Linked DNA regions of Homo sapiens. The protein of the gene in region 1 interacts with the protein of each later gene in a pairwise test. Each region holds a gene or a part of one and is shown in the gene's direction. Other genes may lie near its edges. The genes, in order: ANKRD26 and ANKRD28.

What was found.
Region 2: the proteins of ANKRD26 (region 1) and ANKRD28 interact in a two-hybrid assay, tested with the Homo sapiens proteins (one large-scale study listed by BioGRID and IntAct).

The regions. Positions count from the first base shown.
Region 1 is NC_000010.11:27,093,678-27,097,499, reverse strand, and holds part of ANKRD26 (ankyrin repeat domain-containing protein 26), read left to right. Parts: intron 1-3,700; coding exon 3,701-3,815; intron 3,816-3,822. UniProt on the Homo sapiens protein: Acts as a regulator of adipogenesis. Involved in the regulation of the feeding behavior.
Region 2 is NC_000003.12:15,668,757-15,672,578, reverse strand, and holds part of ANKRD28 (serine/threonine-protein phosphatase 6 regulatory ankyrin repeat subunit A), read left to right. Parts: exon of another isoform or gene 1-945; coding exon of another isoform or gene 946-969; exon of another isoform or gene 970-1,219; intron 1,220-2,022; coding exon 2,023-2,309; 3' UTR 2,310-3,822. UniProt on the Homo sapiens protein: Regulatory subunit of protein phosphatase 6 (PP6) that may be involved in the recognition of phosphoprotein substrates. Involved in the PP6-mediated dephosphorylation of NFKBIE opposing its degradation in response to TNF-alpha.

The DNA.
Region 1 (3,822 bases):
AGCAGACATAGTCTACTATCTCTTTTTTCTTTTTTTCTTAGACAGAGTCTCCCTCTGTTGCCCAGGCTGGAGTGCAGTGGCCAGATCTCAGCTTTACTGCAACCTCTGCTTCCTGGGTTCAAGCGATTCTCCTGCCTCAGTCTCCTGAGTAGCTGGGACAGCTAATTTTTTTTTTTTTTTGTATTTCTAGTAGAGACAGGGTTTCACTGTGTTAGCCAGGGTGGTCTCGATCTCCTGACCTTGTGATCTGCCCACCTCGGCCTCCCAAAGTGCTGAGATTACAGGCTTGAGCCACCGCGCCTGGCCTTTTTTGTTTTTGAGGTGAAGTCTCGCTTCTTCGCCCAGGCTGGAGTGCAATGGTGTGATCTCGGCTCAATGCAACATCCATCTCCTGGGTTCAAGCAATTCTCCTGCCTCAGCCTCCCTAGTAGCTGAGATTCCAGGCACGTGCCACCATGCCTGGCTAATTTTTGTATTTTTAGTATAGATGGGGTTCTACCCTGTTGGCCAGGCTGGTCTCAAACTCCTAACCTCAAGTGATCTGCCTGCCTTGGCCTCCCAAAGTGTTGGGATTACAGGCGTGAACCACCGCTAGTTATAAGCATATTAATGTAAGTGCGTAGTATTTTAATAAAATGTGGTAGAATATAGACTTGATCTTTGAATTGGAAACATAACAGTAGTGGACATGAAGATTTGCAGAGCTGATTTTTTTTTCTTTTTTTTTTTTTTTTGAGATGGAGTCTCGCTCTGTCTCCTGGGCTGGAGTGAGTTGGCATGATCTTGGCTCACTGTAACCTTCTCCTCCCAGGTTCAAGCAATTCTCGTGCCTCAGCCTCCCAAACAGCTGGGATTCCAGGCACCCACCACCATGCCTGGCTATTTTTTTTGTATTTTTAGTAGAGACGGGGTTTCACCACGTTGGCCAAGTTGGTCTCAAACTCCTGACCTCAGGTGATCTGCCTGCCTCAGCCTCCCAAAGTGCTGGGATTACAGGCATGAGCCACTGCACCAGGCCAGAGTTGATATCTTTGAAGTGAGGATTTTACTTCTATGCAAATTCTTTTCTGTCAGAGGTGAATCCCTATTTTAGTCATGAATATGATATTTATTCCCCTTTCACAACAGGAACTTCATATATATGTATATAAGTGCTGTGTGGTGTTCTAAACTATTTCAGTCTTGCATTAGCATTGTAATACATAATGTAGCTAATCTGCTATGAATTTGGGAATGCATTTTATGACAAATTTACAGAGCTGTCAGGGAAGATGGAAAGTTGCTGATTTCTCATATAAAACTGTCTTCATAGAGCTTGATGTGAATCTCCTGCACTTCTGGAAGCAGGTATTTAACTCATCCCCAGGAAATCAAGCCTGAGAGAAGTTCTGGTGAGCTGCTTGGCTCCTGTGTTGAGACTGGTCTGGTCTCTTAGCATTTGTTTTGGCAAAGAATGTTTGGATGTTTATAGAGGACAGATGAGAGCTCTGGTCAAGTATGAGAGCTGTTGGTGGGAGGGAGAATCCATTTGGGATCCCATATGAAAAGTCCTGTTAAGGGTGTGAGCAGGCCTTAGAAGAGGGTAATCCAAAGTGGATCTGTGGATTCCTTAGGAGCTAAGAGGAAAGAAAGGCCAGAGTGGAGTGCATTCATTCAGGTCAAGGCAATTGCAGGTGAAAACATAGTCTACTATCTCTCAGGACCTTTCCATCTTCAAAACCTTTATGTTTGCATACCTGCCCAGCCTGAGCAAGTTGAGAGATTTAAAATTAGACTATTAGGGCAATCTCAATTGAAGCTTTTCCTCCCTCCTCTTATTTATTTATTTTTTTGAGAGGAGATTATGCTCTGACACCCAGGCTGGAGTAAAGTGGCATGATCTCGGCTTACTCCAACTCTGCCACCAGGGTTCAAGTGATTCTCCTGCCTCAGCCCCCTCGAGTAGCTGGGATTACAGGCATGTACCACCATGTCCGGCTACTTTTTGTATTTTTAGCAGAGATGGGGTTTTACCATGTTGGTCAGGCTGATCTTGAATTCCTGACCTCAAGTGATCTGCCTGCCTTGGCTTCCCAAAGTGTTGGGATTACAGGCGTGAGCCACTGCACCCAACCCCTCTTTATAAACAAAAGTGTTTCTGAAGGTAGAAAATTATAAGAAATAACCTTTAATTACCCTTTTGAAAATTTATGTCTTAAACACGAATATTAGTCATTGGAAATATCTGCATATATTCTATAAATCTAAATATTGAATAAAATGAGCCAACCTATTCATTTGAATCCTGAGTTTCTTTTGTGTTGAAGTTTCTTGAAAACACAATAAGAATTACTTTGTTTTAAAAATCTGTTTTTCAATTTTAAAAATGCTTCCAATTATAGTTGTAATAAATCATGAATTACAAGTGGCATTCCAATGTCAGAGATATTGAAATGTGAGAAAATGAGCATCTTAGAATCACTGAAATACTGTGTTATCTCTAATTTTTTTTTTTTTTTTGTAGACAGGGTCTCTCTCTGTTGCCCAGGCTAGAGTACAGTGGCACAATCACAGCTCACTACAGCCTCAACCTCCTGGGCTCAAGCGATTCTTTGGCCTTAGCCTCCTGAGTAGCTGGGACCACAGGTGTTCACCACCATGCCTGGCTACTTTTTAAATTTTTATAGAGATGGAGTCTCACTATGTTGCCCAGGCTGGTCTCAAACTCTTGGACTCAAGCAGTCATCCTACCTCAGCTTCCCAAAGTTCTGGGATTCAGGCATGAGCCGCCATGCCTGGCCTTATCGCTGATCTTTAAAACATACTGTCAACTAGGTATAATTGTATCATTTCATTTAATTAAAACATCTTTATTAAACAGTAGTAATGGTAATTATATCTAACAATTATTGAGCTGTTATTTGTGCTAGGAACTGTTCTAAACATTTTGCATAGATTCTCATGTAAGCATCCCAGTGGTGTCCTATGAGATAGCTACTATTTTGATCCCCATTTTATTGATGAGGAAACTGAGGCACTTACTAAGCCATAATGAGTAAGTGACAGCTTAAAGTAGGATTCAACCCCAAGTTGAACTGAATCTAAAGGTCAAGCCTTTTCTATTCAGATAGGTTGCTCTTTCATTAATGTGGTGAGTAGTAAGAGCTAATAAATATTGTACTGTTTTCAGAAGAAAATTAAATACTTGTTTTGAAGGCGGAGGATTAACATGTGTATTAGTCTGTTCTCATGCTGCTAATAAAGACATACCCTTTATTATATGGGTAATTTATAAAGGAAAGAGGTTTAATTAACTCACAGTTCAGCCTGGTTGGGGAGGCCTCAGGAAACTTAACAATAAGGGCAGAAGGAGAAGCAAACATGTCCTTGACATGGTGTCAGCAAGGAGAAGTGCCAAGCAAAAGAGGGAAAAGCCCCTTAAGAAACCATCAGATATTGTGAGAACTCACTATCACAAGAGCAGCAGCACGGGGGAACCATCCTCGTGATTCAGTTACCTCCCACTGAGTCCCCCTCACCACACGTAGGGATCATGGGAACTACAATTTGGGATTTGGTTGGGGACACAGCCAAGATGAGATTTGGGTGGGGACACAGCCAAACCATATCAACATGCTATTTAATGTTTATAATTTTATGAACCATTGTATGTTTTGAGACAGTGCACTACAGTTTATAAAAAGTCCTGTCACTCTCATAGGACGGCTCTACATTTGGCCTGTGCCAATGGTCATCCAGAAGTAGTAACTCTCCTGGTGGACAGAAAATGCCAGCTCAATGTCTGTGACAACGAAAACAGGACAGCTCTGATGAAGGTATATA
Region 2 (3,822 bases), on another chromosome or scaffold:
TACTTTGAACAAATAAAATTTAATTAAAAATACGGACAGCCTTCAGCCACTGCTGCCAAACTTGGAAGGACATCAGTTGTTCTCTTTGACCCTTGACAAAATGGGAACTTTACAAAGGGGGAAAAATTACTTTTTGTGGCTGGGCACAGTGGCTTACTCCTATAATCCCAGCACTTTGGGAGGCAGAGGCGGGAAGATCACTTAAAGCCAGCAGTTTGAGACCAGCCTGGGGAACAAAGCGAGACCCTGTATCTACAAAAAAGTTTAAAAATTAGCCAGGCATGGCATGTGCCTATAGTCAGAGCTAGTCAGGGGGCTGAGGTGGGAGGATCACTTGAGCCCAGAGGTTGAGGGTGCAGTGAGCATGATCATTATACTGCACTCCAGCCTGGGTGACAGAACAAGACCCTGTCTCAAAAAAAAAAAAAAAAATCCTTTTTTTATCAAGGCCAATATAGCATAGATGAAAATATGTGGGAGAACTGGAAGCAACCAGATGCCCAGTAGTTGAAATGTATAACTAAACCATAGTATAATCACACAATGAAATACTGTATAACAATGAAAATGAACCAACTACAGTTACATACAACATTGATAAATTTCATATAATGCTACACAAAAATGCCAGATATGAAATAATACATACTACATGATTCCATTTATATTAAGTTTTTTAAAAACTCTAAACTGTAGGCTGGGTAAGGTGGTTCACATCTGTAATCCCAGCATTTGGGAGGCCGAGGCAGGCAGATCACTTGAGGCCAGGAGTTTGAGACCAGCCTGGCCAACATAGCGAAATCCCATCTCTACTAAAAATATAAAAAATTAGCTGGTCATGGTGGCACACACGTGTAATCCCAGCTACTCAGGAGGCTGAGGCAGGTGAATCACTTGAACCCAGGAGGCAAAGGTTGCAGTGAGCCAAGTTTGCACCACTGAACTTCAGCTTGGGTGACCGAGCAGACTCTGTCTCAAAAAAAAAAAAACAAAAAAAAAACTATAGTGTTTATGACTCCAAGTTGAAAGCAAGGAAATTACTACCCCATAAGTCAGGATAGTAGTTACCATTGTGGAAGAAGAAAGGTGTAACGACTGGGTAGAGGATATATGGAGGCTTCTGGTATGCTGGTAATGTTCTCTTTCTTAATCTGTATGGTGGTTATACAAATGTATGTTATGTGATAAAACTATTAAAGTTCCATATGGTATAATTGAAGCTTGGCATCACACTATTATCACTTCTCTCCCGCTCCGTCCTCAAGACTGAGTCTTGTACCAACTGAGGTACCAAATGTTTCCTCCTTGGTTTGCTGTGTTGACACTTTGTGGTAACTTACGACTAAGGTCAGTTGTCTTCCGCTTAAAAAAAGGGAATATTTACAAAGGAAATATTTGTTTTGATTTAGTAGTTTTTAAAGTTCATCTGCTTAGTTTGTCTACTGTTTTTCTTCAAGAGACTGTGACCCCAAGAGAAAAGTTAAATTGACAACTAAGTGTCATTCATTCAACACATATCTTTTGAGCACCTGCCCTGTGGCTGATTCATGAAGCTGTACACATTTAAGATTTCTTAGCATCAAAAAGTTTCCTTACATAACTACAAATTAAATTTTTTTATTTTTTCTTACCTTGACACTGATATAACTGCAAATTAACAGTAAATCTCTGCCTACCATCCTGAAAGAATATTCACGATATGTGGTGTTTTTCTTATTCTAGCCCAGTTTTTTCTGTGAATTCAGATGGATACGGATAAGTTGTGAGACCTTGGGGAATCATTCTTCTCTGGGCCTGCTTCCTCTTCTGTTGTCTAGTCTAACATCCCCTTCCACCCTAGGTTTCTATGGCTATTCTTTTTCTACTTATTAGAAACTTGCGAATCATGCTGGTTACAGCAATTTATTATAAGCTAAGTAATGTAAAATATGTCTAAAGTTGAAGTACTTTAGGCTTATTTCCTTGTCTTTGGTGAAATACATCTCAGGATGCTTAATTTTTAAATTTTATCTTTAATTCTAGGCTATACCCCAGCTTTGGCCTGTGCTCCCAATAAGGATGTGGCTGATTGCCTGGCTCTCATTTTGGCCACCATGATGCCTGTCTCATCAAGTAGTCCTTTATCATCCTTAACATTCAATGCCATTAACCGTTATACCAACACCTCAAAAACAGTCAGCTTTGAAGCTTTGCCCATCATGAGGAATGAACCTAGCTCCTATTGCAGTTTCAATAACATTGGAGGGGAACAGGAGTACTTATACACTGACGTGGATGAGCTCAACGACTCCGATTCTGAGACCTACTGAGAGGCTGAGGAGGAGGGAGTTCTCACAGTAAAGCTTCAAACTGTGCTTTTTCAGGAAAAAGGCACTTTGATATTCACGTAGAAATTCAACCTAAGAGGAAAGATCCCACAGTGAGCCAATGTTAAGAGATCTGATGGCATTAGGAGGAAGAGTTTTAAAGGCAAGTTTTACAAAAGGAACTTCTAGAATCTTGAAATAGACCTGACTGAGGAAAACACATTGATGTCAGAATTCTTTGTGGAATTGTTTAATTTGGTTTTGCAGTGCCAGGAACAATTGGGGACACTGTGCACTCTAACCTGCTTACACAAGCAACACTATTGTAACAGAAGAAATAAAGACACTAGATTTAAATTTTATCAATAAAATTACAACTAAATTTAAAGGCAATAAAAGTTTGGTACAGTAGGCATTATGTGCACAGCAAATTGCAAAAGGACCAAATAACTGAAAGGTTTTTTTAATAAAATGCCATTTTGTGGAAACTGGAGTAGATTAAATGAAACATTACCTAAACCAAACTGCAATATTTCTGGAAATGAAGCTGAGATTTGGTTTTAAATGTTGAGTTTTTTTGGGTTTTGTTTTTTTTTTAAGAAAACATCTGAAAGCCTTCCAATGCTGTATTAAACCATGAGAGAAAGCAGATGTATTTTTACATTTTTTTCTTTTACAGAACTATTTCAAATTTCCAATTTTTATACTATTAGAATTAAAAACCAGCTGACTGGGTGCAATACGGGTGAAAATACTTGTGACATAGACATTGAGATGGATTGGGGTCAGGCTGTTGCCCTGTTTTGAATGGTTTGGGTTTAAAATAGTACTATTTTTGTTTGAAAATGTAAAGAATTTCCTAGAAAAAAATTCATGAAATCAAAAAGTAGACTATTTCACCCTATTGCAGCTAAGTGGTCCTGGGGCATGGAGTCTTCAACCTCTCTATGAATGGCACACCTTAGTCACTTATGTTACTTTTGTGTCCCCACCATGGGTTGGGGGATTTTTTGTTTATTCTGATCTATGAGTTTTGAAAAAGTGAATAATCAAAAGGAAAATAATTCCTTGTTGTTCATAAATTAAGCATCACTAAAGTCTCTTGAAAGGCATTTCTGTATTGGGCAAGATTTAAAATACTAAAGCCTTAGGTCCTATTCATATTTAAAGTAGCATGTTTGTAACCTGTTACTATTTGGAGAGAGAAGCAGTTGCCTGCCAAATTGAAGACTACCTTTCAAATAGCAAAAGAGAGAGAGAAGGCTGATATTTCGGCTTTTAAATAAAGATTTGTGTGGTTCTGCTTTTACTGTAACTGTCACTTTCCCAGTGAAAATGATTTCATATACATTGAGGGTCTTACAGGTATGGGTAAAGTTCTATAAATTGCAACAAAATGATACCCAATTTCATTTTATCCTTTTTGTATTGTGAAACTGGAAACTTTATGACATTGTAAATTATCAGCTGGTTTTTCTGAATATAAAGTGTGAAAACACAGAACAGTATTTTGATC